7 separate regions of the Homo sapiens genome follow, and regions 2, 3, 4, 5, 6 and 7 are each reported to be linked to region 1. The links are microRNA targets in miRTarBase. Many come from high-throughput screens and were not tested one by one. Region 1 holds a microRNA gene; each other region holds the end of a gene's coding sequence.

What was found. The annotated mature microRNA hsa-miR-155-5p reads UUAAUGCUAAUCGUGAUAGGGGUU and lies in region 1 at 1,569-1,592, shown strand. An mRNA with a match to its seed (bases 2 to 7 or 8) in the 3' UTR can be bound and repressed. Matches are read on the target gene's strand: a 7mer-m8 pairs with bases 2 to 8, a 7mer-A1 pairs with bases 2 to 7 and ends in A, and an 8mer does both.
Region 2: the mRNA of UBA3 is a reported target of hsa-miR-155-5p. The part of its 3' UTR that is shown has no 7-base or 8-base seed match.
Region 3: miRTarBase lists CNOT10 as a target of hsa-miR-155-5p. The part of its 3' UTR that is shown has no 7-base or 8-base seed match.
Region 4: the mRNA of DIPK2A is a reported target of hsa-miR-155-5p. Seed matches in the 3' UTR shown: 8mer at 2,298-2,305 and 7mer-A1 at 3,095-3,101.
Region 5: the mRNA of ZNF300 is a reported target of hsa-miR-155-5p. Seed matches in the 3' UTR shown: 7mer-m8 at 2,518-2,524.
Region 6: the mRNA of LPGAT1 is a reported target of hsa-miR-155-5p. Seed matches in the 3' UTR shown: 7mer-A1 at 1,685-1,691.
Region 7: miRTarBase lists AIFM1 as a target of hsa-miR-155-5p. The part of its 3' UTR that is shown has no 7-base or 8-base seed match.

What each region holds. Positions count from the first base shown.
Region 1 is chr21:25,572,415-25,576,483 of GRCh38, forward strand. It overlaps MIR155 (microRNA 155), which reads left to right and starts at 1,566; the gene lies at 1,566-1,630. It overlaps MIR155HG (MIR155 host gene), which reads left to right. Exons shown (of 3, transcript NR_001458.3): 3 at 1,479-2,754. RefSeq lists a silencer at 1,510-1,689 and enhancers at 3,241-3,390, 3,783-3,832.
Region 2 is chr3:69,051,776-69,055,844 of GRCh38, reverse strand. UBA3 (ubiquitin like modifier activating enzyme 3) reads left to right here. Exons shown (of 18, transcript NM_003968.4): 18 at 320-1,115. The coding sequence ends at 408. TMF1 (TATA element modulatory factor 1) reads left to right here and starts at 3,512. Exons shown (of 17, transcript NM_007114.3): 1 at 3,512-3,900. The coding sequence starts at 3,759. RefSeq lists an enhancer at 3,451-3,920.
Region 3 is chr3:32,773,289-32,777,357 of GRCh38, forward strand. CNOT10 (CCR4-NOT transcription complex subunit 10) reads left to right here. Exons shown (of 19, transcript NM_015442.3): 19 at 169-587. The coding sequence ends at 323. Among named protein-coding and RNA genes, the nearest start is that of CNOT10-AS1, 38 kb to the left of the region's middle. RefSeq lists a silencer at 1,009-1,303.
Region 4 is chr3:143,989,139-143,993,207 of GRCh38, forward strand. It overlaps DIPK2A (divergent protein kinase domain 2A), which reads left to right. Exons shown (of 3, transcript NM_173552.5): 3 at 372-3,230. The coding sequence ends at 703. Among named protein-coding and RNA genes, the nearest start is that of DIPK2A, 19 kb to the left of the region's middle.
Region 5 is chr5:150,892,085-150,896,153 of GRCh38, forward strand. It overlaps ZNF300 (zinc finger protein 300), which reads right to left. Exons shown (of 6, transcript NM_052860.4): 6 at 2,315-4,069. The coding sequence ends at 3,340. It also overlaps a transcript of IRGM not described here. Among named protein-coding and RNA genes, the nearest start is that of ZNF300, 11 kb to the right of the region's middle.
Region 6 is chr1:211,746,277-211,750,345 of GRCh38, forward strand. It overlaps LPGAT1 (lysophosphatidylglycerol acyltransferase 1), which reads right to left. Exons shown (of 8, transcript NM_014873.3): 8 at 1-3,774. The coding sequence ends at 3,623. Among named protein-coding and RNA genes, the nearest start is that of NEK2-DT, 73 kb to the left of the region's middle.
Region 7 is chrX:130,126,149-130,130,217 of GRCh38, forward strand. AIFM1 (apoptosis inducing factor mitochondria associated 1) reads right to left here. Exons shown (of 16, transcript NM_004208.4): 15 at 3,822-4,018; 16 at 3,214-3,480. The coding sequence ends at 3,409. It also overlaps a transcript of RAB33A not described here. Among named protein-coding and RNA genes, the nearest start is that of ELF4, 18 kb to the left of the region's middle.

The sequences.
Region 1 (4,069 bases):
TTTCTGAGTGCTCTAATCAGGCAATTCGTATGTATATTTAAAAAGAGGGAAAAAGCTAATTAGTATACTAAATATATTTATTTTAATACCTGTGCTCATATGTTATCTTTAAAGAACAGGAATAAAATTTATGGGTAGAATAGTATGCCAGCAATTTACCTTCAATACAAATTAAACACATCTTTTAAGAAAAGGGCGAGTTATATTGGCTGGGGTGGCACTAACACTACATTATTAATATGTATTTATTGAGCATTTACTGTGTCCAGGACCCTGTAAGGGGGAAAAAAAGTCCTTGTTTTTACAATCTTTATTGACTGAAATTCTGTAAAATGAATTGAATTCCTGAAGTGACATCATTTAACCCAAATTTTTTCATCATCAACTAATTCATCTCAGAAAACAGTAAAGTTTAAAAAAAAATACTATCAGTAAGAATAATATATTTCCTTGGTTTGGAAATTTCCAAACCACGATATTCTGCCCTGTCAAAATATATTCACTGGGGAATTTTTTACTTCATACGTTTCTTTTGAACTTAGTCACATTTTTATATCTAGCTGGTTTCATTATTAAATAAAAGAAAAGGTGATTCCCCTCTTGTACTGCAGGAGACCACATACTTGAATGATACTCTAACTTCTAGGTTCTGTTATAGTAACACTGAAATCAGAAACCTGTGGGAGAAATGTCACTTTATCTGAGAGAGTAAAATCAGACTCTAAAAGGAAGTAGCAAATTCATCTTGTTCTTTTTTTTAATCAACCCTCTGCCTAAGACAAGTAGTTTGAAACACAGAGGACTCTTTAAGTCATACTTCCTTTATGTAGTCAAAACCAAAGCCACTGGGTAGTGCTTTCCCCAAAGGAATCTCTAAATAGTAGACGGGGACATTTTCAGATAGATTCGTTTGTAGGCAAACCTCCATTGCTTGTATCACATTTCCTGAAAGAATAAAGGTAAAACTTCAACTATGTATTACAGAAAGAAAAATTCAGCCTGAACCCTACCCTTATAAAACAGGTTAATTGGGTTTTAATTTTCATAAATCATAAAGGACTATTTTGAACATTTGGGCCTTTAATTGTCTAGCTCCTAGATGAAGTACAAATCAGAAAAAAAAAAAACTGTACTGTGTCAGAATGCAAGCTTTCCTCTTTGCATTTTGGCATTTGAAAACTCCGAAGAGCGGTTTTTGTTTTTTATTTAAAGAAGATGATACATATGTGTACCCGATTCAAAACTAGAGAATAGAATTTAAAACATAATTTTCAAAGTCTTCAAATATGCCTAAAGGTAACAATGTCATCTTTTAATTGCCAATTTCTCTACCACTTTCAAAAAATTACTTCCAAGGATTTAATGAGCTCCTTCCTTTCAACAGAAAATGGACTATTTTCCTTTCAGATTTACTATATGCTGTCACTCCAGCTTTATAACCGCATGTGCATACACAAACATTTCTTTCTCTCTTGCAGGTGGCACAAACCAGGAAGGGGAAATCTGTGGTTTAAATTCTTTATGCCTCATCCTCTGAGTGCTGAAGGCTTGCTGTAGGCTGTATGCTGTTAATGCTAATCGTGATAGGGGTTTTTGCCTCCAACTGACTCCTACATATTAGCATTAACAGTGTATGATGCCTGTTACTAGCATTCACATGGAACAAATTGCTGCCGTGGGAGGATGACAAAGAAGCATGAGTCACCCTGCTGGATAAACTTAGACTTCAGGCTTTATCATTTTTCAATCTGTTAATCATAATCTGGTCACTGGGATGTTCAACCTTAAACTAAGTTTTGAAAGTAAGGTTATTTAAAAGATTTATCAGTAGTATCCTAAATGCAAACATTTTCATTTAAATGTCAAGCCCATGTTTGTTTTTATCATTAACAGAAAATATATTCATGTCATTCTTAATTGCAGGTTTTGGCTTGTTCATTATAATGTTCATAAACACCTTTGATTCAACTGTTAGAAATGTGGGCTAAACACAAATTTCTATAATATTTTTGTAGTTAAAAATTAGAAGGACTACTAACCTCCAGTTATATCATGGATTGTCTGGCAACGTTTTTTAAAAGATTTAGAAACTGGTACTTTCCCCCAGGTAACGATTTTCTGTTCAGGCAACTTCAGTTTAAAATTAATACTTTTATTTGACTCTTAAAGGGAAACTGAAAGGCTATGAAGCTGAATTTTTTTAATGAAATATTTTTAACAGTTAGCAGGGTAAATAACATCTGACAGCTAATGAGATATTTTTTCCATACAAGATAAAAAGATTTAATCAAAAAATTTCATATTTGAAATGAAGTCCCAAATCTAGGTTCAAGTTCAATAGCTTAGCCACATAATACGGTTGTGCGAGCAGAGAATCTACCTTTCCACTTCTAAGCCTGTTTCTTCCTCCATATGGGGATAATACTTTACAAGGTTGTTGTGAGGCTTAGATGAGATAGAGAATTATTCCATAAGATAATCAAGTGCTACATTAATGTTATAGTTAGATTAATCCAAGAACTAGTCACCCTACTTTATTAGAGAAGAGAAAAGCTAATGATTTGATTTGCAGAATATTTAAGGTTTGGATTTCTATGCAGTTTTTCTAAATAACCATCACTTACAAATATGTAACCAAACGTAATTGTTAGTATATTTAATGTAAACTTGTTTTAACAACTCTTCTCAACATTTTGTCCAGGTTATTCACTGTAACCAAATAAATCTCATGAGTCTTTAGTTGATTTAAAATAATTTTTATGGCCCATTTTCTTTTGCAAAGTACAAATTATAATTCCAGAAGCTATCTGCCAAAAAAAGACAATGGAAGAAAATTATGAGGACACTAAAGGGAACATTCCTGACTCCTAGGACACAGTATTCTCATGTAAGAATACCCATTTGGCTTTGCCCCACTTTCTGTTCAAGTTGTATGTGCTGCCAAGACAAATTTCTTCTCCTCACTTTCTGTTCAAGTTGTATGTGCTGCCAACACAAATTTCTTCTCCTAACACCTGGAATGAGCTTGTGGCTCCACGGAGCTCCCATGTAGGTAGAACACATTCAAGAGTGTTTCTTCAGGCCAGGCACAGTGGCTCACGCCTATAATTCCAACACTTTGGGAGGCCAAGGCGGGTGGTTCACTTGAGGTCAGGAGTTCTACACTACCCTGGCCAACATAGTGAAACCTCGTCTCTACTAAAAATACAAAAATTAGCTAGGCATGGTGGTGCGTGCCTGTAATCCCAGATACTCAGGAGGCTGGGGCAGAAGAATCACTTGAACCCAGGAGGTGGAGTTCACAGTGAACGAAGATCGTGCCACTGCCCTCCAGCCTGGGTGACAGAGTGAGACTCCATCTCAAAAAAAAAAAAAAGTGTCTGTTCAATTCATTTTATCTGCCACTGTATATCTACAAGAGGACTCCTTGCTTTGAGTCCCAGTTCTTCAAAATCCTGCTTGCTGCCTAAAGACACAAAGTCATAGAACATTAGGACTGGAATAAACTATTGTAGTATAACCTTCCTGCTGTTACAATAAAAAGCTATAAACATTACAAAGGCACTTAAAGAAAAGCTGTGCTGGGAAATGCCTTATTTGAAGAGCATTTGGGTACACTCACATGAAGCTTTGGAAAGTTACTTAATCTTCCTCTAAGCCTCAATTTCTTCATCAATAAAATGATGAATATATTTCATATTTCATAAGATGTAGGCTTAAATGAAATCATGCATGTGAAAAGCACAATGTCTATTATGCATTAAGTGTTAAACACAAACTTTCAAACTTTTACATTTCAGTCATTTAAATCAAATGATCTACCATAGCAGATCTCCCCAAAGACACTCTAGCTCCAAACTAACTATAATCAATCCCGTGGTGACGACCCAAAGAACCAGGGTTCCTGGGTTTTCTCTCACGCCCAGCCCACCTAGGCTTCTGACTGCCTATCTCCTCATCTTAGAGGGATTCCTCCTGACCAGTCATTACAAAAATTCTTGGAGCATGAGCAAGACTGAGTCTGTGTTTGGATTGGAGGAAGGGGTAAGTAACAAGGTATATATATGTA
Region 2 (4,069 bases), not on the chromosome of region 1:
TACATAAGGGTATTTACTAATCATTTTCTTTCTTTTCTCTCTTTTTGGTGAAAGTAATCAGTGCTTGTTCTAGATTTCCTCTTAATGCCTTGTATATGGTCAGGTAATAATTACTTACAACTTTAGACATATTAATAGAATTAATTGCTCTTTTAGTAGAATATTTTAAAATCTCTAAGAAATCAAATATTACTTTGATTAAAGAGGATTGGATTTTGATGTTTTTCTAGACCGTAATACTCTGTAGTTTGTTTACATGTGTATTATCCTTTCTGTTGAGTTTTTTTTGCTTGTATTAATAATATTTTTTCTGTTTTAGAATTGGGGCTTGTTGATGGACAAGAACTGGCGGTTGCTGATGTCACCACCCCACAGACTGTACTATTCAAACTTCATTTTACTTCTTAAGGAAAATCTCCACATAATAGAAAACTCATGGAAATAATATACTTTGTGGATGCTAAGAAGTTGAATCGATGTCATTTTTAGCAATAGTGTTGCCACGATTTGTCTTTTTTTATATAATGAACCACTCTTTTTTAACTTTGTAACCTTCCCTTGAAGACAGAATTTTGGTGTTGGTGCTTGTAAGCATTTTCATTAATAATATGAGAAATGATACCTGGAGAGAGAGATTATGAGCAAATGTATTGCTTCTTTTAGAGGAGGAAGCATACAACCTCTTTTGTGTGAATTTTGTTATTATGGTCAAAGAATGCATTCCTAAGTTTTCATTTGAGTACCCAAATACACAAAAGGTGTCCCTTTAAGGAAAATAAAGAATTAAGTTTTAAATAACATTACATTTTACAATCTGACATCTGGAGTATATTGAACATAGGCTATTTCTTGATATAACACTCATTTAATTGTGGCCATCCAAATGAATATTATTGCAGAATTTATCTTGTTCATAATGATTTGTAAATGGTGTTATAGCTGAATACCTGTGCATGAAAATGGGCAATATTTTCATCTGTTTACTTGTAGTGCCATAGAGGCCAATATGCACAATATTAACTAATGCCAAGACATGGCTGTTTAAAAAATTTAATGTTCAAACAGTTATCACTGATGCTTTTGCACTATTTATTAATAAAATCATATATTGTGTACTTCTTTCACTGAAGTTTTTAAAAGTACATTAAGGGTAATCAGTAGTTCCATGGTAATATAGGAATAATTTTTAAATGTGTAGCAGAGTTATATCAAATTTTTATTGCACTTAATACTTTTGCTACAGCAATTTCTATAGTAAAAATTTACTGGTTTAATTTAACTTTCTGTATCAATATAATTTTTTTTTTTTTTTTTTTTGCGACAGAGTTTCGCTCTTGTTGCCCAGGCTGGAGTGCGATGATGCAACCTCAGCTCACTGCAACCTCTGCCTCCCCGGTTCAGGCAATTCTCCTGCCTCAGCCTCCGGAGTAACTGGGATTACAGGCGCCTGCCACCATGCACGGCTAATTTTTTGTATTTTTAGTAGGGACGGGGTTTCACCACGTTGGCCAGGCTGGTCTCAAACTCCTGACCTCAGGTGATCCACCCCCCCCCGCCCCCCTCGGCTTCCCAAAGTGCTGGGATTACAGGCATGAGCCACCATGCCTGACCATGTTTTTGTTTCTTTTAAGTGAATAAAACTTCAAACAAAATTAAGTACAAATACTAAAAAAGTAGGTGCTAGTATTTTAATATGAGAACATGTATGTGTTCTCATTCTTTGTTTTTGACTTAGATATGGCAGTTTTCTGTTCAAATGTTTTTTGGTTACTTATGTGTCACTGAGTTAAGTTTTCAGTAATCTTTCTAGCTACATATTGACAAATAAGTTTTATTATAAAACCATACGGAATAAATTTATAAGCTCTACCTGAAAAGTTACAGGTGTAGCTTACAATTTTGAAAGTGAAGGAACTAAAATTTAGCACCATATAGGTGCTATAATAATTCTCAAAGTAGCATTGTAAGAAGGTGACTCTATCTGAGAGCTGAATAAATAGTTTTAGATGGTTTAGGTAGGTCATTTCACCAAAGCTGTACAATTAGAAGTCTTGGAACTGTAACTGTACAGCTAATTTCAACCCGAATCTGCCCCAAATCTCCTCTGCAGACTACTTAGCTGTTTGAAAGTACTTGAGTTACTTGGTACTACTTGTGTACATGACTAAATTGTTAGTTTTAACATGCAAGTTTTTACTGTAGTTAGATAAAATTATTGGAAGATGATTATAACTTCTTAAGGGGTTCAATCTGATTTTTTAAAAGAAAAATAATTCTTTTTTGCAGAGTTCCTTGCAGTGGGGTAAAATATTCAAATATGGGAGGCAGGCATATAAGGTAAATAATCACAGCAGGGAGGGTGTAATAGGATGAGTGATAGGGGTCTGTGGCAAACTGGAGTGAGTGAAAATTATTTGGTGACCACTCTGGCTGACTATTCCCATGCTTGGTATTCATATTTTTCAAAAGCAGCTGGAAATCTAGATTTTTGAATGAAATCTGGCTTTTAGTTAGGATTTTGTCTTTAACTTGGGCCCAAACCAAATATAGCTGCAGACTGGATTAGGAAGGCCACCAATTTAAGGTATTTTCCCATGTCCAAATGTTCGAAGAGAATGCACACAGAAAAGGTTATGTTTTAAGTAATATGCACAGTGCACATTGTTAGGATAACAGCTTTAGTGCTTCCTAGGTGTCTTAGTCCATTTGGACTGCTGTAACAAATTGCCATAAACTGGGTGGCTTATAAGCAGTAGCAATTTGTTTCTTAACAGTTCTAGAGGCTGAGAAGTCCAAGATAAGGAGCCGGCAGATTTGGTGTCTGGTGAGGGCTGCTATTCTGGCTTAGAGTTGGTGCCTTCTTGCCGTGAGCTCCCTTGGGCCTCTCTTATAAGGGCACTAACCCCATTTATGAGGGCTCCATCATCATCTAATCATCTCCTAAAGGCTCCCCTTAATACTGTCCCATTGGAGATTAGGTTTCAACATAGGAATTTGTGCAGGGGACACCGACAGACCACAGTATTAGGGGTATTTTGACTGCAGCAATGAGTTTACTACTATTTTGAGAGAGAGGTTGTGCTTTATGCACCATGTGTTCCACGAGTTGGACACAGTGTTCATACGTGATCCTGTCTTTTAGGCAAGCCCAAACAAGTGTTTCTCCTTACAATACCAAGTTAATACAGAGCTTATTAAATATTTGAGACAAAGGGCTAAGAGAAGTGTGAGGCCCAATTTCCCTTTGCAATTATTGCTGGCAAGGTGCAAGCTTTTAGCACGTGAACTATTTTCCTGGAAAGCACACACACGAAAACTTGAATATTCCTTCCGGGGAAATCGACCTCTATCGGTAGCCATAGCTTCCCCTTCGCTAAGAACTGCTGTAAGCACGAAATCGACATCAATAGAAACCCTTCCGCGTTCCTCGGTAACTAACGGCAACCCTGCGCTCCCGGATGTGACGTCAACGTTCTTCTGTTCTTCCGTCTGTCGACCGAACTCTGGGCTCGTAGATTTGGTTGCTGTGTACGTGGAAGAAGCAAGCGCATGCGCACATGGGCCCCCTTCGTCTCAGCTGTGCGGGAACGGCCGAGGGTAACATCCCGGGCTCGCGGGAGGCTGTCGGGGTAATGGCCACACGCTGACAGAACCAGCCGAGTGGAAAAGGGGAGCGAAGCCGTTCCTCTGCACCCTTCCCCAGGCCTGAGGCCTTCCCGCTTGGTGCTGCCGCCGCCACTGCCGGCTGAGGAGGGGCGATGAGTTGGTTCAACGCCTCCCAGCTCTCCAGCTTCGCTAAGCAGGCCCTGTCCCAGGCCCAGAAGTCTATTGACAGGGTTCTGGACATCCAGGAAGAGGAGCCGAGCATCTGGGCCGAGACCATTCCGTATGGAGAGCCGGGTAAGAGAGAGAGGAGCGGGGTTCCTGGCTCCCGGAGGCTGCTGTTCTCTTGATGCAGGCAGGTTAAGTGGTGTAGAGAGGGGTCCTTCCTTGCTGAGAGAGTTTTCAGGAAGTAATTTCTCCCCGGCCCGTTCCCTAATGCTGCTTCAGCCTCCAAGTCGGTCTTTGC
Region 3 (4,069 bases), not on the chromosome of region 1:
TTTCTGGGGATAAGATGGAGGCTTTATGGGATTCCAGTATACAGCCAAGGCTGCAGATGACAGCTCTTCTAGATCATCTTTTACCTCCCCAGCAGGATTTTCATGTCTTGCTTTGTGTGTGGCAGTATTGTTCTGTGCTTTGTTTTTTAACGGGAAGTGTTTTTATAGGTAATACTCAGCTGGCCTTACAGATCATCAAAAGGAATCAGCTGCTCCCTGCAGTGAAAACACACTCTGAAGTGAGAAAGAAGCCAGTGTTTCAGCCTGTCCACCCGATCCAGCCCATCCAAATGCCGGCTTTCACCACTGTGCAGAGAAAGTGATACTTCACTTTTGGAAAACTGTTACCTGAGACCCAGGGGAGAATTTACTGGCCATTTTAGTTGTATCACAGCAGAATGAATAAAAGATGGTGAAGGCTGTTAATTTTGAGTCAATTCTACCCCTGACATTTGGCCAAAAGCTTACTTAAAATTAAGGATTTACTAAGTCATCATCAGCTGTTTTTCTTAATTTCAGCCAGACTATTAATTTTGAGCCATTATGTAATATATGCCATAGGCAATTAAAACATAATTTTATCAGAAGTCTTTTACACTTTTATTGACTATTAGATTATTTTAGCATCTGAGGTTTTGTGTTAACGTTCAAAAATTGACAAAGAACATCAGCAGTAGATGAAATAGCCAGTTCAGAAGCTGACCTGGGGGTGAAGGGGAGGGAAAGAGAGTTGACGTGTTTTATGTCTAGTTATGACTGAAAAGACCAGAAAATGTGTTGAGAAAGTAGGTTAAGAAGATACAACTGGGCCAGGCACAGTGGCTCATCCCTATAATCCCAGCACTTTGGGAGGCTGAGGTGGGCAGATCACTTGAGGTCAGGAGTTTGAGACCAGCCTGGCCAACATGGTGAAACCCCGTCTCTACTAAAAATACAAAAATTAGCCAAGCATGGTGGCACACACCTGTAGTCCCAGCTACTCAGGAGGCTGAGGCAGGAGAATCGCTTGAACCTAGGAGGTCGAGGTTGCGGTTAGCCGAGATTGCACCATTGCACTCCAGCCTGGGCGACAGAACAAGACTGCCTCAAAAAAGAAGACACAACTGATCTGTTAGGAATCATTTGCTTAAAAAGTGCAAATACAACAGGGTTCAGTGTACTGGCCTTGTTCACTCTCCTAGGTTCTGGAGTCTGCTGGCAGGCAGTTCAAGGTTCATTACTAACCCTTTTGCAAATGCAAACAAGAATTTAATAGCTTCTTCCCAAGAGACAGTTATGTGTTGTGGGATTGACGTTGACAAAATTTGCCAATAGGATGTATATACACTAACATTAAGTAGGGGGAAAAAACAATACAAGTGGGTGCAGTGGCTCACATCTGTAATCCCAATGTTTTGGGAGACCAAGGCGGGAGGATCACTTGAGGAGTTCAAGACCAGCCTGAGCAACATAGCAAGACTCTGTCTCTGAAACATTTTTAAAAGCTGGACATGGTGGCCCATGCCAGTAGTCCTAACTATTCTGGAGGCTGAGGTGGGAGGATTGTTTGAGCCTAGGAATTCAAGACTGCAGTGAGCTATGATGGCACCACTGCACTCCAGCCTAAGTGACAGAGTGAGACCCTGTCTCAAACAAACAAAAGACAATGTGGATTTGCTCTAGTAAATTGGGTGTCCCCCTAGTTAAGATGGTGTTTGGTAGATTCATCAAAGCTTGCCATTTAGGAATATCCCTTAACGTCACAATGCTTCACTTCCCTAGTTTGGAGACACATTAGCTGAATCTACATGTTACCTCAGTTTCAGAACTAGAGAGACAAGTGTGTGGATAAGTACTGATTTATCTGAAACTTTATCTGAATTATTCTTTTTTTTTTTCCTTTGAGACGGAGTCTTGCTCTGTCTCCCAGGCTGGAGTGCAGTGGCACAATCTCGGCTCACTGCAACCTCTGCCTCCTGAGTTCAAGTGATTCTCCTGCCTCACCCTCCTGAGTAGCTGGGATTTCAGGTGCCCGCCACCACGCCTGGCTAATTGTTGTATTTTTAGTGGAGATGGGGTTTCACCATGTTGGTCAGGCTGGTCTGGAACTCCTGACCTTGTGATCCACCCGCCTCAGCCTCCCAAAGTGCTAGGATTACAGGTGTGAGCCACTGCACCTGGCCGTTTTTTTTTTTTTGAGACGGAGTTTTGCTCTTGTTGCCCAGGCTGAAGTACAATGGCACGATCTCGGCTCATCGCAACCTCCGCCTCCCAGATTCAAGTGATTCTCCTGCCTCAGCCTCCAGAGTAGCTGGGATTACAGGCATGCGCCACCATGTCTGGCTAATTTTGTATTTTTAGTAGAGATGGGGGTTTCTCCACGTTAGTCAGGCTGGTCTCGAACTCCGGACCTCAGGTGATCCGCCCGCCTCAGCCTCCCAACATGCTGGGATTACAGGCGTGAGCCATCGAGCCCAGCCTATCTGAATTATTCTGTTGCTGACAGGAAGCGGAACTCAGGTAATGATATATACTAGAACTGAATATTTGTGACTGAGATAGGCATTGCCAACAGACTCAAAGAAGGGGAGAATATCCTCCTCTTTTTAAACATGGATGGATGGATGTAGGGGCTCCATTGATCGAGTGCCACATTGTAGTTGTTTTGTACACAGAGTAGATTTTTACAGGTGGACACAGAAAGCAGAGATAGCCTAGCTTCCTTGGACCTCTTGAAGCCCCTTCTAAGTAGGACCATAGGACCCGTAATCTGCACTGCTGTTGGTTTAAGTCTGCCGTCTCTGCTTTCCCATACTCCAGACCGACAGCAGTACTGTGAGACCCACTCAAATGAGCAGAATTGCTTTGCCTGGGAATTTTCTGGAGAGTGAGTCCACAGACTTCATAAATCGCTAGGAACTCACATAGTCATGGTAGTATGAAGGGGAAAAGCCCTATAATTGTACTTCAAAAAAACACATCTTTAGAGAAATCAAGAAATTAGAACTTTCTCTGCATGCTGGTTTGTTTATGGGAAAGCAGGCAATACCTAGTAAGGGTAGGGCAGGTCCTATATTAAATAAGACTATATTTGGCTGCAAGTAGCAAAAAATAGGTCTGTGACTTAAAGATTATTTTTCTCTCACTTGAGAAGGGGATATGAAGGCAGCTGCTGGCCTGGGTTCTAGTGTCCCGTGATGCCATCCAGGACTCAGCTCTGTTTTTCCATGCCACTGTCCTCAGCATTTGGGCATTTGTTTCCATAGTCACAAGATATTCCAGTATCACATCAACATTGAAGGCAAGAAAAACAGGGCAAAAACTAGCTAATCTTGATGGGAGACTATCTGGAACAAAACTTTCTTAGAAACCTCAGCAGCCTTGAGCTTAACATCTCTTTTGTCACATCATGTCATGGAGCCATCCTAAGCTGCAGGGAAGCCTGGCAAAGATGTCATAACCATGCCTGCTGCAGTTGCTGGCATAGCCCTGCACATCCTAAGGGAGGCCAATTCAGTGTTTTTCAGATTAATGTTCCAGCAGCTCAGCTTTTCCTTCCACTGCCTACTGTCAGCAGAGCCCAGCAAATTAAATATAAGTTCTTCACCTCTGTGTCTGGACTCATACTGGTTCCCATAGCCAGGAAGGCTTCTTCCCACCTATTTTTCCTGCCCCATTTTGTTAAAGCCACCTCTGCTAACTGAGGTAACTCTGTCAGAGGGGTTTGAACCAGAGCAACTCCATCTTAAATGGGAGCTGGGTAAAATAAGGCTGAAAGCTACTGGGCTGCATTCCCATGTGGTTAAGGCTTAAGGCATTCTAAGTCACAGGATGAGATAGGGCAGCACAAGATACAGGTCATAAAGACCTTGCTGATAAAACAGGTTGCAGTAAAGAAGCCAGCTAAGACCCACCAAAACCAAGATGGTGATGAGAGTGACATCCTCACTGCTACACTCCCACCAGCGCCATAACAGTTTACAAATGCCATGGCAACATTGGGAAGTTACTCTATATGGTCTAAAAAGGGGAAACATGAATAATCCACCCATTGTTTAGCACATCATCAAGAAATAACCATAAAAATGGG
Region 4 (4,069 bases), not on the chromosome of region 1:
TCTTTTAAGACCTAAATCAGATGTTCTCCTTTTTGCAGCCTTCTACAGCCCCAGGGACAAGTGCTAATTTAATTCCCCACTATTCCTGTAGCATTGTGTCATATTTCTTTATGGCACTTTCTGTGTATGATGGAAAGTCGCTAGACTAAACCTGTAAGTGGTAGAGACCTTTCTGAATCTTTCTGCCTAGCGTTAGTGGGCTCCCAGTGAATGTTTGTATGAATTTATATATTTAAATGTTTATGGTTATAATATACTTTTACCTAAAAGTGTAGAACAAATACTATTAATTAGTGAAATATTCTATTTTTGGAAGCAATGAAAACTATTTAAAAAATTTTTTTCTACTTCTGCTTTTCCTCCTTTCACAGATAAACCTGAAAATTGGGATGTATGGTATGAAAGCAAGTTTGATGACTGTGATAAGGAGGCTTGCTTATCATTTTCAAAAGAAATTCTTTGTGCTCGTGCCACTGTGGACCACAATTACTATGCTGTTTGTCAGAACCTCTTATCCAGACATGCCACCTGGCGTGGCACTTCTGGAGGACTCCTTCATGATCCACCAAGTGAAATTGCCAAAGATGGCCGGCTCGAGGCCTTGCTGGATGAGTGTGCCAACCCAAAGAAGCGCTATGGCAGATTCCAGGCTGCAAAAGAACTGCGTGAATACCTAGCACAATTAAGTAACAACGTGAGGTAGTCTATGGTGAACTTTTCTTTTTTTCTCCATTTAAACAGCACTGGCTAAAACTAAACCACCAAAAAACGATCTGAAAAAATGAAATTTGGAAGTGTTACATTCAGAGGATGATAAACTTGCACTGATAGATCTTAATGTTAACATCCATCAAAATAAGACATTACTTCAAAAATCACATGATGCTTCTGCAAATAAGTATGTTCTTATACTTTGGAGGCTTGAGCTGTCATCAGCTGCTCCCCACTACCCCGGAATGCTTGAGTGGATTAATGAATATTGTTAAGCTATTGGAAATGAGTCTGATAGTACATTGGCTTGTGTATCAAAGGGTACTTGGTACTTAGTTTGCATTTACTATCATGATTTTGTGAATCTCTTGCATTTACTTTGAATGTCAAGTCAGATTGGTCTGTTTTATAGGCCGCTTTTTCCTTCTGATGTGTAGGGTTTTTTCCCCCTTTTTTTTTTTAATTAAATTTTGAAAATTCAGGTTACTGTAGGTGTTCATTTAAATTTTTAATAGTTGTCATTCAGTGCTATTTGGTACATATTTACTGTTAGGGCAGGATTCCCAGGTTTACTGTGTTTTTTTTTTTTTTTTTTAAAGAAAGCTAAATATTACATTATGTAAATACTTCTTTTCACCAACTTCTGTAGTTTCACCATTGCATGGTGTCATTTCAGGTTATTTAACAGTTATATCCCTCTATGCCAATAATTAGAAGTGTACACTAAACATGAAGTTTGGCATATGTTGCAAAATGTCATTTTATCTTTTCTAAAGGCTTTAAGAAGAATATACTAGAATCTATATATTGATGTTAATTTTGATTCAGAAAAAAAATACAACCCAGTATCTAAAAAGTGTTAACTAGTCCAAGATAGTAATGCATATGCCAAAGAAATATTACACCTAATCTCATGTTTAGAATTTAAAATAGAATTGGTCAGCTACTTATTCTTACCACCCTACTTCCAGTATTTTAGCTCTGTCATTATTAAATTCAGATCTTCCTGATTATTTTTTCTGTTGAAAGTTAAACTACTGCTTTCAAGTAATTTAAAGTTATCCTACCTTTTATTCATGGGTAGTTTTGCAAAATTAACATGGTAGCCATTGTTTGAATTTAATCGGGCATCATAACTTTTCATTTATTGAGGAACTAATCATTATTACTATAAAGCATACAAATTAGCCAGTCAGCACACTTTGGTCTTCTTTACCTAAGGGTTAAACATCAGAACATCAAATTTAATTATTTGCATAGAAATGTGTGGGCTCTTTATATAAGTTGACTATCACTAACAGGTAATATTTTTCTGTTTGAAGTTGTTACTTTTGTTTACAGCAAAGTTTGATGTAGTGTGCAGTAGTGAGCTCTAGACTGATCTTTTTCTAAATCAGAAAGTGATTAAAGTATGCACAACCAAAGGCAGGTTTTTCTTTTTCATTTATTCAGCAACTATTTATTAAGCATCAACTCTGTGCCAGGCACGTTACTAGCTGCTACATACTGTCTGAACATGACATACGGTTAAGTAACTTTACAATTATTATCAAATACTTCAATGTAGATATTTCTTAAGTTGAAATAGCATTAACTAGGATAATGCTTTCATGTTATTTTATTGTCTTGTGATAGAAATTCAACTTGTACCATCTAAAACTAGGTTGCTATAAAAATAGGAGGATGAAGTCAATAAAGTTTATGCCAGTTTAAAAACTGGAAGGAAAAGGTAAGAGCTCTCCATTATAAAATAGTTGCATTCGGTTAATTTTTACACATTAGTGCATTGCGTATATCAACTGGCCCTCAATGAAGCATTTAAGTGCTTGGAATTTTACTAAACTGACTTTTTTGCAACTTTGGGAGATTTTTGAGGGGAGTGTTGAAAATTGCCAAACACTCACCTCTTACTCAAAACTTCAAATAAAATACACATTTTCAAGAGGGAGCACCTTTTATATTTGATAAGTTTTCATTATAAACCTTATAATACCAGTCACAAAGAGGTTGTCTGTCTATGGTTTAGCAAACATTTGCTTTTCTTTTTGGAAGTGTGATTGCAATTGCAGAACAGAAAGTGAGAAAACACTGCCAGCGGTGATTGCTACTTGAGGTAGTTTTTTACAACTACCATTTCCCCTCCATGAAATTATGTGAAATTTATTTTATCTTTGGGAAAAGTTGAGAAGATAGTAAAAGAATTAGGAATTTAAAATTACAGGGAAAAATATGTAAGTGAAAAGCAATAAATATTTTGTTCACTTTGCTATCAAGATGTTCACTATCAGATATTTATTATATGGCAGCAATTTATATTTTTAATCATTGCCCATTAATAGACGCAGTAAAATATTTTTGAATCAGACATTTGGGGTTTGTATGTGCATTAAAATTGTCTTTTGTACTGTAAGTTACTGTTAATTTGAATATTTTATTGAACTGTCTCCCTGTGCCTTTATAATATAAAGTTGTTTCTACAACTTTTAATGATCTTAATAAAGAATACTTTAAGAATCACACTTTTCAGACTATTTCTTAACTTCAGATATCCACATTTTTCTTGAGTGGAAAGTGAGTTTGAGTAGATAAGTTACTAGTTTCCTCTTGCATGCACTTTAATTAGAATTTTGAGGGAACTATCTGATTGGGTGTGCACCAGGCTTTAAGGTTATGTGTGTTTTCTTTTTCTGTAGTAGTGAGTTTTTAAAAAACTTTTACCACTAAAATGGAATTAAAAGAAAAACTTCATTATGGAAATTTTCAAATGTATGCAAGAGAATAACATAATGAACAGTAGTATATCATTACACTAACTTCAAAAGTTAACAACATGTGGCAAAACTAGTTTCATCTCTAAACTACTTGCTTCCAGCTTATTTTGAAGCAAATCTGAGATGTATCATTACATCTCAGATTTATATTACGCATTTTCTCCTAGTAAAACACAATACTTTTTTTTTTTTTTTTTTTGAAACTGATTCTCGCTCTGTCACCCAGGCAGGAGTACAGTGGCACGATCTCGGCTCAGTGCAACCTCTGCCTCCCGGGGTCAAGCGATTCTTGTGCCTCAGCCTCCCGAGTAGCTGGGATTGCAGGTGTGCCCACCACCACGCTCGGCTAATTTTTATATTTTTTGTAGACACGGGGTTTCTCCATGTTGGCCAGGCTGGTCTCAAACTCCGTACCTCAAGTGATCCGCCTGCCTAGGCCTCTCAAAGTGCTGGGATTATAGGCATGAGCCACCGCGCCTGGCCTCACAATACTATTTTTACATCTAAAAAATTACAATAAAAACTCAGTATCACCAAAGCAGGAAAACTTAAACACCATTGTTTTTCTCAGAAACTCTGGATCCAAC
Region 5 (4,069 bases), not on the chromosome of region 1:
TCATAGGTCTGTATTCCCAATAAACTATCTCACTGTCAGGATGTATAAGTCATTTTTGAACACTAAAACATAAGGATTAAGATTAAATTTTTTATTAAATGGTGACATTAAGTGTTTTTATGGAGTTTTTTTTTTTCAATATTGAAGTTTGGCTAAATAATAGGAGCATCTGCATGCAAGCATCATGTATCATGAACCAATTCAGAAAACGGTGTGGAAGATTAACTGTGTTAATTACAGAAGGGAAAGGGAGGCAGGAGAGGCAGCATAACATAATTGTTAAGTGTGTAGACTCTAGAATCAGAATATCTGAGTTTTAATTAATCTCTCCAAATTATTTAGATATTTTGCAAAACCTGTTTATTAGGTCTAGTAAATATTTTGTGCAGTTTTGAGATCTTCTACATAGAAGGATATGTTGTCTACAAATAACAACACTTTTATCTCTTCCTTTCCAGGTTGCAAGCCCACTCCCTACTTTGCTTTTCTTATTGCACTGGCTAAATTCACCAGTGTAATGTTAACTAGAAAGAGTCAAGTAAATATTCTTGCCTTTTTCCAGCCATTAAATATGATGTTTACTGTAGGTTTTTTATCTATGCCCTTTAACTATTTGAGGAGGCTGCCCTTTATTCCCAGTTTACTTAAAGGTTTATTATTTTTTCAATCTACAATACATTTTTTTGAGACAGGGTCTCATTCTGTCACCCAGGCTGGAGTGCAGTGGTGCAATCACTGCAGCCTTGAGCTCCTGGGGTCAAGGTGTCCTCCCACCTTGTCCTCTTAAAGTATGGGGATTACGGACATGAGCCACAATTTTCTTGTTTTGTTGTTCCTATTTTGTGTGTTTTCCTATTTCTTCATCTTCTTTTATTTTTATCATGTCCTTTTTATTTTTTTGGAGTTAGATCACAGCGTTTTTTTATTCTAACCTATTGAGACTGTTGCTTAGGTATTTTCAGGCTTTCTTTTTGCCTGATCTATACTTACTGCTATACATTGTCCTCTATTATAGGTTTAGGCAGAGTAAATTTTGTGAATGGTATGCAGTAAATTTGTTTTTTCTTTGTTTTACCCATTTGGATAACTGAGCCAGAGGCATTACTGAAAAGGTGAGTTTCCTCCCATTGTTCTAGAATGCCAACTTTGTCATAATTCAAGTGTCTACAGGTAATTATCAGTTTTCAGATTCTCTTTTACCATTGATCTACATGATTACTCGTGTAACACCACATTGCCTTAATTACCACTGTTTTATAAGAAGTCTAATAAGTTATCCAAATTTGTTCTTCAAAAGTGTCTTAGCTACTCTTGCCTTGGGGCATTTCTGTATATCATTTTAGAACCAAATTATAAGATTTTTATAAAAAAGGTTGTTGAGGTGTTGATATAAGGTTCATTGACTACTGTGAAAAACTGATGTAATTTTGTTGAGGAGTGAAGAATATGACTAATCACACGTATTAGATACACTGTCAGGGCAACCATAGGATGCACAGATTAAAAAATATATAAAGAACAGACCATCAGAGTAAGCCTGATAAAAGAATTATGCAAAACAAGACATCAGAGTAAGCTCAATGTAACTATTGATGAAAACTAGGTATCTGCCATTTACCAACAGAGGGGAAGCTTAGTTCCACACAACTGTAGCTTCAGTTCCATATAAATAGAGCTAAAAATCCACTAGTTTTATAGCCATGTGCTAGCTACCCAAATGCTACATAGTATTTTTATTTCTGTTATTCAACAATAAAATTAGCAGATCCATTTTATGAATGGGTTTGCTCTTTTGGATTTCTCTTTTCCCACCCCAACAATATATAAATCACCTGGGATGTGGGGGGAGTGATATCTTTAACATTGAGTTCCCACATCCCTGTCCAGTGAATGGCATCTTTAATTCTCAGTTCCCACATCCCTGTCCAGTGTGCCCTCTACTCTACAGTTGTTCTCAACTAGAGGAGCCCCATGTTTTCACAACAGACAGTTTAGCCAAGCAGGAAGGGGATCAAGTGGATAGGAAATCAAGCAGGAAATATGTGCAGATGCTGTGTTTATCACACAGGTATTCTCATCCTTGCCAAGTATGCTCTCCTGCAGGTCACTTCCAGCAAGGGTGCTCATCTAAAAATGCTTATGGGGGAATGGATGGAATGACAGATAGTAGGTGTTATCTTAGAGGCCTCCAGTTCTCAAGGCTATACAGGCATTACTTCTCACACCAAGAGTTTTCCCCTGTAAGTTTTCAGGGCAAACAGTTGGGGCTTCAGGGAAAGGATCACAAAGAAGTGAAGAGACATTAGGCAGGGTCTTTATGTGCAATCACCACGGTTTATGTAAGTATATGAAAATAAATCCAAGTATTAAAAAACACAACCTTAACATAGCAAAAATAAGGCCACCAGGATCAGAAGACAGTAAAATGAGCCACTTATAGGGATAGGCAATCAAAAGCAGAGTGTCCAGAGGGAAAAGCAAGCTCAGACGTGGTTTTTACACATTAGTCTTAACATCTAATGCTTCAAGATAGAGAGTAAAGATTTAAAAAGTACTAATATTAACTGAAAATGAGCTCTGCATTGTATTTGTACTTACTGATAAAAAATACTCAGCTAGGAGAAGTATGTTTGCCTAAAGTCACACAATCTGTGAGGCACTGAGCCAGGATTAAACCCAAGGCCATCTGGCCTCAGTGCCAATGTTTTTCAGCTCCAAGTTCCCAGTTGGGAAGAGTAAAAGGGAGACCTGCTCAAAATGCATCAATCTCAAGGTCCTTCCAGAGATGCAGGTCAACTTATATGCTTGAGATGGGAAAATGCATACAGATCAACTTTACTGAATCTGATCAACCTATCATTCCATTTTTTGTACAAGAACTTTACATGTAGCTTTAGGGGTCATGCTCAAGCCCCTTCTTAAAATAGTGTATAGGTTTTATTTTATTGTTTACTTAAGCTTTCTTCCACGTCTTTTATAGAAAAATTAGTTTATGGCCATAATTATGACAAGCTAATATTAGCAGTTTCACAATGGCTGATTATCATTTTGTAGTATAAGGAATATGCAACTTGACAATATTCTGTATGCTTAACTTGCTGTGCTGATCACTGAGTTCATAACTTTAAAAGCTTTACATGCCATATTAAAAATGTTCTTCATTTATATAACTATTTTCCATCATCTTTGCTGGAAAAGTTAGGCATCACCAAACTAGAAACAAATTCCCTTAAAAATTTTTATCTATTGGGATGTTGTCCCCAAGCTTATCAAATTAATTGGGTTTCTAGTAATTATTAAGGCTTGAGCTAATACTAAGGCTTTTCTGTGGCCAGTTCATTATGATTTTACCACTGTGTGAATTCTCTGGTGTACAGTTAGTTGTGACTTCTGGATGAAGGCCTTCCCACATATAGCACATTGATAGGGTCTTTCCCCAGTATGAATCCTCTGATGTAAAACAAGGTCTGACTTCTGAGAAAAGGCCTTTCCACATTCAGCACATATGTAAGGTTTCTCTCCTGTATGAATTCGCTGGTGTCCCGGAAGGTGGGACTTCTGAGAGAAGGCTTTCCCACATTCAGTACATATATAAGGTTTTTCTCCTGTGTGAATTCTCTGATGTCCAATGAGATGTGACTTCTGGCAGAAGGCTTTGCCACATTCACTACATTTATAGGGTTTTTCTCCAGTATGTGTTCTCTGATGTATGATGAGCTGTGACTTGCGGGAGAATGTCTTTCCACATTCAGTACATTCATAAGGTTTTTCCCCAGTATGAACTAACTGATGTGTAATGAGTTCTGTCTTCCTGCTGAAGGCTTCCTCACATTGAGCACATTTGTAGGGTTTCTCACCAGTGTGAATTCTTTTATGTATAATGAGGTGGGACTTCTCACAGAAGGCTTTCCCACATTCGGTACACTCATACGGCTTCTCTCCAGTATGAGCTCTGTGGTGTATAATCAGCTGTGACTTCTGGGAAAAGGCCTTCCCACACTCTCTACATTCATAGGGTTTTTCCCCAGTATGTATTCTCTGATGTATAATGAGGGGTGATTTCTGGGAG
Region 6 (4,069 bases), not on the chromosome of region 1:
GTGATTTCAGATTTCATTTTCATAAAAAGGCTTGAGAACAATGCCAATACTGCCAATTTTTGATTATTCAGGGATGCTTTTCTAACCCATAGATTATTCAGGCTTCTGTATTTCCTCTTCCTGATAGCTGTCTTTCCGCATCATTTCACTACTCATTAACACAGTCATAAATATATAGGCAAAAAACCCCTAAGAAACAACTTAAATCATTTAATTAGTAAGCGTCCCTAGAAAAAAAATGTCTGATGAGAGTAAGAATTCAAACTCCTAAATAAAAGTAATTTTTGATTTACCTATCATTTATTACCAGATTATCTATCCAGAAAGTAATCAATCTAGTAATCCTTCCTTTATAGTGGAAAGTTAAGGATTGGTTGTAATATTAAAGACCAATAAGATAGATCTGAACTCATAGCTATCTTCTTTTTTAATATACTTTTGGAATTCTCAGTGAATTTGTTTGCTTGCCCAAAATATTATTTTCCATTCTGTAATTTTTCTTTACCTTCCATTACTTACAGGTTTCTCTGCAATTTAAGTACAGTTCACCACCAATAATTGTTTCTGAAGTTAAGGGTGACCTGCTGGCTTGGTCACTTTTGCAGTGACTGGACCTGCCTGTGGCCAAGCACATGTTCCATCACTGTAACTCATCAATACCAAGATTCCAGCAATGGATTCTCAACCTTGTCTGCTGTGGGAATCTAGGCAGTCTAGCCAAGACCAAGAAGAGCTGAGCTTCTACAAGCTATTGATATAAAACTGGCATAGTTTTATCTTCTTTCCTCTTGACAAAATATATATACTTTAAACGTCCTTTCATCTCCCTTCACAAAGTACAAATTAGGAACTTTTCTTCAGTTTTGTACAGTGGCATATTGCTGCTTCCCCAGATTGCCATATAAGAATACTGATTCTCTCTTTACCTTCTCTAGTGCAAGCAGGAGAACTCCAGTTACTGATAAGGAAAGCACTACCAATGCTTTCAAACATATTTTGCAAACAGAAGAGAGAGAACATGTTAAAGAATCAAAGAAGGATAGGGCAGATCAAATACACATCTATTTACAACTCACGGAGATATTTAAAAAAATTAACTCACATATCTATTGGCATTTGTCACCCTGGAGACTGTGAAAATGACACCGTACTTGAAAAGTAAAGCATCTTATAGAATAGTTTAATGTGTACAGTATATTTAACAATATCATGTTCCTTTGGAGCACAGTGATGGCAAAAGTGGCCCTCAGCCACATTTATGTATGCATGTTCGCATTTATTTTTGGATAGGAGAACTGGTCACTCTACCCTGTGGCTTGCTGTAGCAATGAGGAAAAGGTCTATCAGCTAGGACCGTGCATGCTGTATTTGACAGTGAGCAACTTCTCCCCCAGATGGTTGACTAATCCCTCAAGTGAACAATTTCATTTCATCCAGTAATTTAGTGGTGCTTGCTGGGCCTCAAACAGAAGCATCATTAAGCTTCTATTGGGCTTTCTGTCATCATCCATACCTCTAAATTGAGATTGGTTTCATTTATTCACCGACACTGTAGAACACATAATGAAATGCTTAGATTTAAAAAAAAATTGCATTTTATAACAACCAGTCCCCAAACCAAACACATTAACACTGTCTTCTGCATTTTACCAGTAGTAGTATAATATTCAATGAGGTATTTCAGTTAATGCATCATTCTCTTTCACATATGCACTGAGTTATCGTAAAGATGAAGCTGCTGTGGGCTTTTATTTGGTGTTGCTTTACCTTTCCCACATAACTGGGGAAAATTCACATCTTTTCTGTTTTTTTTTGGTTTATTTAAAAATAGAAAACAGCAACCTTTTTTTGTTTTATAGCCTACTTCTCAAAATTGTTGTGTGATTAGTGACAACGGGGGAATCTACAATGCTCACATCACAGTAAACTACCACTGACTTACTAGGATCTTAATAGTCTTACAATCCCAAACAAAAACCCTACTCATCTCACTGATGCAGTACCAGCACTTTTGGAGAAGGGTGTGGTTCTCTTATGAGGTAAATTGTACAAACATCGCAACAAATTTCTAAAAAATGTTTTCTAGAAATAGAAACTTGACTTTACCCTCTTCAAAAGCAACTGGAGGCCGGGCGTGGTGGCTCACGCCTGCAATCCCAGCACTTTAGGAAGCCGAGGTGGGCAGATCACCTGAGGTCAGGAGTTCGAGGCCAGCCTGGCCAACATGGTGAAACCCCATCTCTACTAAAAATACAAAAATTAGCCAAGCATGATGGTGGGTGCCTGTAGTCCCAGCTACTCGGGAGGCTGAGGCAGGAGAATCGCTCGAACCCGGGAGGCAGAGACTGCAGTGAGCTGAGATTATGCCACTGCACTACAGCCTGGGTGACAGAGTAAGACCTGTCTAAAAAAAAAAGAAAAAAGAAAAAGCAACTGGAAGAGATTGGGGGGAGCCTTATGTGCTGGTATCGTTCCTAATTACACTCACCCTGACAGGGGCAGCTCCTTGATGTAATGATTCAACAGACTACTGTCTGCACAGGTCCTAGGGGTGCCACATGAGAACCTGTCACCATTATAAGCCACTAGCTCTTATTTTTCTATAAACTAGCCTATTTCCCCTTAAACTGATCATTTAAATGTTCTATAGTAATTTGTTTTAACCATCCCCAAATGCATTTAGTGCCAATGTCAAAATGGAAAAAATAAAGCCTCTGAGCTGCAATAGAGGCATCACGTCAGGGTGGTGTCCAGGGCAGGATGGCGCTGGAGAGCACTGGCAGGCAAATAAACACACAGAGACAAGACAGTTCTCGAGAACCTCACACACTGCTATGCTCCCATTTGTTTTCAGGCTATATTACTAATCCTTTGCTATATCTGCATCTCAAAAAAGTGCATTTTGCAAAATTATCAATTTATGATATGCCTCTGATACAAAATGAGAAGTCAGATAAGGAAAAGCACGAGTGTATGTAAACACAGTGTTGGACTGAGCTAGCCTTTGTAAAGAACACATCCAGTACCAGAAGGGGTCCAGTGGACACTGCTTTTCCCCCACAGAGAATGTCAATATTCTAGAGTTTGTTACTGCAACAGACTGGAGTTTGTTACTGCAACAGACTGGAGTTTGTTACTGCAAACGACAGGGAAAGAGTTCTTCACGAGGTGCCAACCAGCTCCCCTCAAGTTTACTGAGTTGGTGGAAATGTGGGCGTTCTAGAGAACTGCCCTAATATAGACTACAGCTAAGAGGGATGAATATAACTTTCTGAGCTTCAACTAAATTGTCAAGTATAACTGGTGGCAACAGAATTTCTCTCAGATAGTCTTCTAGGATGATTTTATGATTTCCTCTTCTCCAAATGTGATGTTTGCTTAAATATGTGATAGAGTGTATCTTTTTAAAACATGTTCTTAAAATATATTAGCAGGTCATTATATTACTAATCCTCATTTTAGTAGATTTTAAAATATCCCAAAGGGGGATAAATATTAATCCATCCATTGAATTTCTTTTGCTTTTTTTTAAATATATTCTGATTTGCACATGTAAAATAATGCACACTTATGAAAGAAAGTCTGAACTCCTACGGTGACCTTGACAAGTCCACGTCAATTCCTAAAACAGGCAATGGTAAAAATACTGAATGATGTTGTACCACATATAGCCTGACAAAAATGCAAAAGACTGTATGAGAAATATCCACAAGTTGCTGAGGGTCATCTCCCTGGAAACAGCTTCCTTATGGCCCTTGGAAGGTGGAAAAGCTCCTAAAAGACAAGATAGAAATATTAGTTTGTTTTACTGTAATGGTAGGTCTCCTGGAATAAAAGTTGAATATTAGCTTAACTACATTTGTACATGTTAAAGCACCTTCAGTGACTTTCCAGTGCCCCAGAGGAGAGATTTTATTTGAAATACAATTTCTGTACTACCTAGCCCCTTCTTGCCTCTGAGCCTTTGCCTTTTCTCTGCCTGCAATGCTGTCCTCCTCCACTTAATGAATAGCTGGCTCATGTGCATCCTTTCCATATCAGAAAAGATATTCCCCCTCCCATCTCTGTT
Region 7 (4,069 bases), not on the chromosome of region 1:
CCAGCTATTGAGGGCCAAACCTCGACTGGCACTGCTTGTCTGTGGAGTCAGAAATCAGACCCTAGAGGCCAGTGGCTCATGCCTGTAATCTCAGCACTTTGGGAGGCCGAGGCAAGACAGATCACCTGAGGTCAGGAGTTCGAGACCAGCCTGGCCAACGTGGCGAAACCCCATCTCTACTAAAAATACAAAAATTAGCCGGGTGTGGTGGCGTGTGCTTGTAATCCCAGCTACCCGGGAGGCTGAGGCAGGAGAATCGCTTGAACCCAGGAGGTGGAGGTTGCAGTGAGCTGAGATCACCCACTGCACTCCAGCCTGGGCAACAGAGCGAGACTCCATCTCAAAAAGAAAAAAAAAAAGAAAAGAAAGAAAGAATTTGGACCCCAGGATCCTCAGGGGCTTGGGCAGATTAAATGCATCCTGGGTAAGTGGCAAGTTGTGACAGCTGAGTGAAGTGGTGATGATCTGAACATCCTCCCATAAACAACCTGAATTACAGAGATCAGAGGTTACAAGACAGAGGTGCATTTTTACAGTCAGCCCTGTTATCTAGCATCATCCAGCCAATCAACCAAGGACTTGCTCAGCACTTCACCAGGGTGCAGCAATATGGTCCCCATCCTGAAAAGAAAACATGGGCTCTGCTCTGGGACAGGTGACAATTCCTTTAGAATGACTTAAAGAACAATTACACTCAAAGGTGCTAAGTGCAACTGGAGTTCAGAGAGAAATCATGCATGGGCACTAGTCCAACTGGTACCATGCCACCAAGGCAGGACTTGATGTAGGCCTTGAAAGATGAGTAGGATTTGGATAGATAAAGGGAGGAGGGATGGCGTTCCGGATGTGAAGAGCATGAACACAAGTTTAAAGGTGGCAATAAACCAGGTGTGTGTGTGTGTGTGTGTGTGTGTGTATGTCCATATTAAAAGTCAGGCGGAAAGTCAGCCAAACAGAGTGGGCTTAGTACTACAGGAGACTTTGAACTTGATGTGGTTGGTGACAGGGAATCACTGTACATTTTTAAACAGGGAGGGGACATGGACCAAGTGGTGGCTTTAGGAAGTGGTCTAATAGCAGTGGTTGACTCAGGATGGCTGCTGTGGCTGATCTCTCCATTCTTGGCATGGCCACAGTACTTTTTGTGTCCTTCTGTGGACGTAGCTCATTGTATTGGAGTTCTGCATCCACATGTCTGCATTCCTCACGGACACCAGGAGGTCCTTAAAAGCAGTGGCTATGTTTTATCTATGTTTCTATTCTGACATCTACCTGGCTCACAGGAGGCACCCAATGAACACTGATTAGATGAATAGATCATTTAATTTCAATCCACTGAACTACAATGACATACTATACAAGGATAACTACTGTCAAAGAATTTGACAAAACTGTATACAACACTAAAGCAAGACAAATCACAATTTGATCTTTTCTTAATGATTTGTGGAACACTAGGATCTTAGTCTTACCCCCATCTCTGTAAGCAGCAATTACTGCTGTATAATAATTTCGATGTCACAGGATACTAGATGAGTTTTCCTTTTTTTTTTTTTTTTGAGATGGAATATTGCTGTGTTGCCCAGGCTGGAGTGCAGTGGTGTGATCTTGGCTCACTGTAACCTCCGCCTCCCAGGTTCAAGCAATTCTCCTGTCTCAGCCTCCTGAGTAGCTGGGACTACAGGTGCATGCCACCATGCCTGGCGAATTTTTGTATTTTTAGTAGAGATGGGGTTTTACCATGTTGGCCAGGATGGTCTCGAACTCCTGACCTCAGGTGATCTACCTGCCTTGGCCTCCCCAAGTGCTGGGATTACAGGCGTGAGCCACTGTGCGCAACCCTAGATGAGTTTTCTACATATAGATTTGGATATATCATTTGGATATGATCACATTTGAGTAAACCTGTATCTATATAGTATTGTTCGGTATACCTGTACTGCAAATTCTTACGGTGGAGATTTGGCCTGTTCTCCCAGTGTTCAGAAGGGATTTGGTTGAAGCTGAAACTGCCCTTAATCAAACCCAATATTTAAAAAAAATCCAGACTGGTAATAATTTTCTCTTTATATACATGGAGTTTAACAACAGGACTCTTGAAAGTAGTAACAAATTCCTCTTAAATAAGATTTGATGTTTTTAGGCCGGGCGCGGTGACTCACACCTGTAACCCCAGCACTTTGGGAGGCCGAGGCGGGCAGATAACCTGAGATAGGGAGTTTGAGACCAGCCTGACCATCATGGAGAAACCCCATCTCTACTAAAAATACAAAATTAGCCAGGCGTGGTGGCGCATGCCTGTAATCCCAGCTATTTGGGAGGCTGAGGCAGCAGAATCACTTGAATCCGGGAGGTAGAGGTTGTGATGAGCCTAGGTCGCACCATTGCACTCCAGCCTGGGCAACAAGAGCAAAACTCCATCTCAAAATAATAATAATAAGATTTGATTTTTAAAAGTTAAGCAATCTAAAATGCCAAACAATGAGTTGACTTGTGAAACTTTGAATCGTATTCCCAGGAAATAATCTGTAAAGTGAGGTATGCCCATAAGCGTATTTCAGAGAAAAGGAGCTTAAGAGAGGACAGATGTCTGGCATGAGGACAGCAGGCAGAAGAGTCAAGAGATGATGGTCCTTCCATGAGTCCGTCTCCAGGTTTAACTGTGAAGCACCAGGTCTCTGAACTCAGATTTGTAGTAAGTGCCCTTTCTGTCCCCTGCAGGACCCAATCCAGTTCTGGGACAGGAGTTGTTCCAGGTAAACAAAGTCTATTCCATACATTTATTTGTTCACTCATTCGACAATGATCTATGAAGCACTTACTATGAAGCAGACCCTGTGCTAAGCTCTGGAGATAAAACCATGAGCAAGGCCTTAACATCAGGGCTTCTGCTTCCAGGAAGTCATGGGCTAGCAGGGAGACACATACACAAGGATGAGGCTTGGAAGGCTGGGAAAGTCTTCAGAGATAGTGAACTTCCTGAGAGGAGAGGAGGGGAGTCAAGTGTTGTGGGCCGAGGCCACAGCAGGTGTGTGCAAAGAGGTCTGGAGGGGTGAGGGAAGTTCGGAAATGAAAGGAGTTTTGCGTCTGGAGTAGGGCATGAATACATGGCTGAGAAAAATCCTGTGCTTGGTCGGTGCTGCAATTTGCTTGCTTTCTAATATGCGTGGCTTTCCACCTTCACCCACCTGCCCCCTTGACAAGAGAACAGAATTTAATTTAGAAGAATCAGAATTTATTTCACTATGTGAACATTAAGAATTTACCTACATAGTTGAAAATATTCACAAAGGACTTGATCATTCACACTCATACACAGAGAAAGTCTGCTGAATAAAAAAATGCTCCTTTACCCATTCGACCTCCTCTCAGGGGCTGCAGTGGGTTTGCCAATTCCACTGTGGGGCTTCAGTCTTCATGAATGTTGAATAGTTTGGCTACTTCATTGAGATCTTCATGCTGCTCACCGTCCTTAATGATCTGAGGGAGAGAGAGTAACAATAGGTCCCTAACTTACTCCATTGCGTTCAGGCCATGCCCACACAATGGGGCTACCTGGGGCAGTCCCCATATCACACTGGGAGGGAGTTGTGGGAACAGTTCTCTACTAACCCCAAACAAGCAGCCTGCCAACTCCCAGGTCACCCAGCCAAGTCCCAAGTGAAAAAGAATGTTCCTGAGCCAAGGCTATACCTTTGTTCTGCTCAGGCACAATTTGACCTGGCCGGGGGACAATGCATCTCAGGGCACCCGATGAAGTTACAGGAATGTTTCTAAGCCGTACTTCCCATCTTCCTCTAAGAGTTATGACAGGCACCTACCTTCCTTGCTATTGGCATTCGGTTAAAGATGTTCCATAGCACAATCCCCACGACCACTTTGTCCCTGAGGTAGAAGATGACACCTTTGCCGTAGTCCTCCCCCTGGACGGGAGCCTGTGGAACTGCCGGGGTGCTGGGAGGAATAGTAATTTCTGAGGCCTCGGACTCTGTCTCACTCTCTGATCGGATACCAGTTCCTGTGGCCAGCCCCCAAAACAAATAAACATGGAAGCAAAATCAAAACTTCA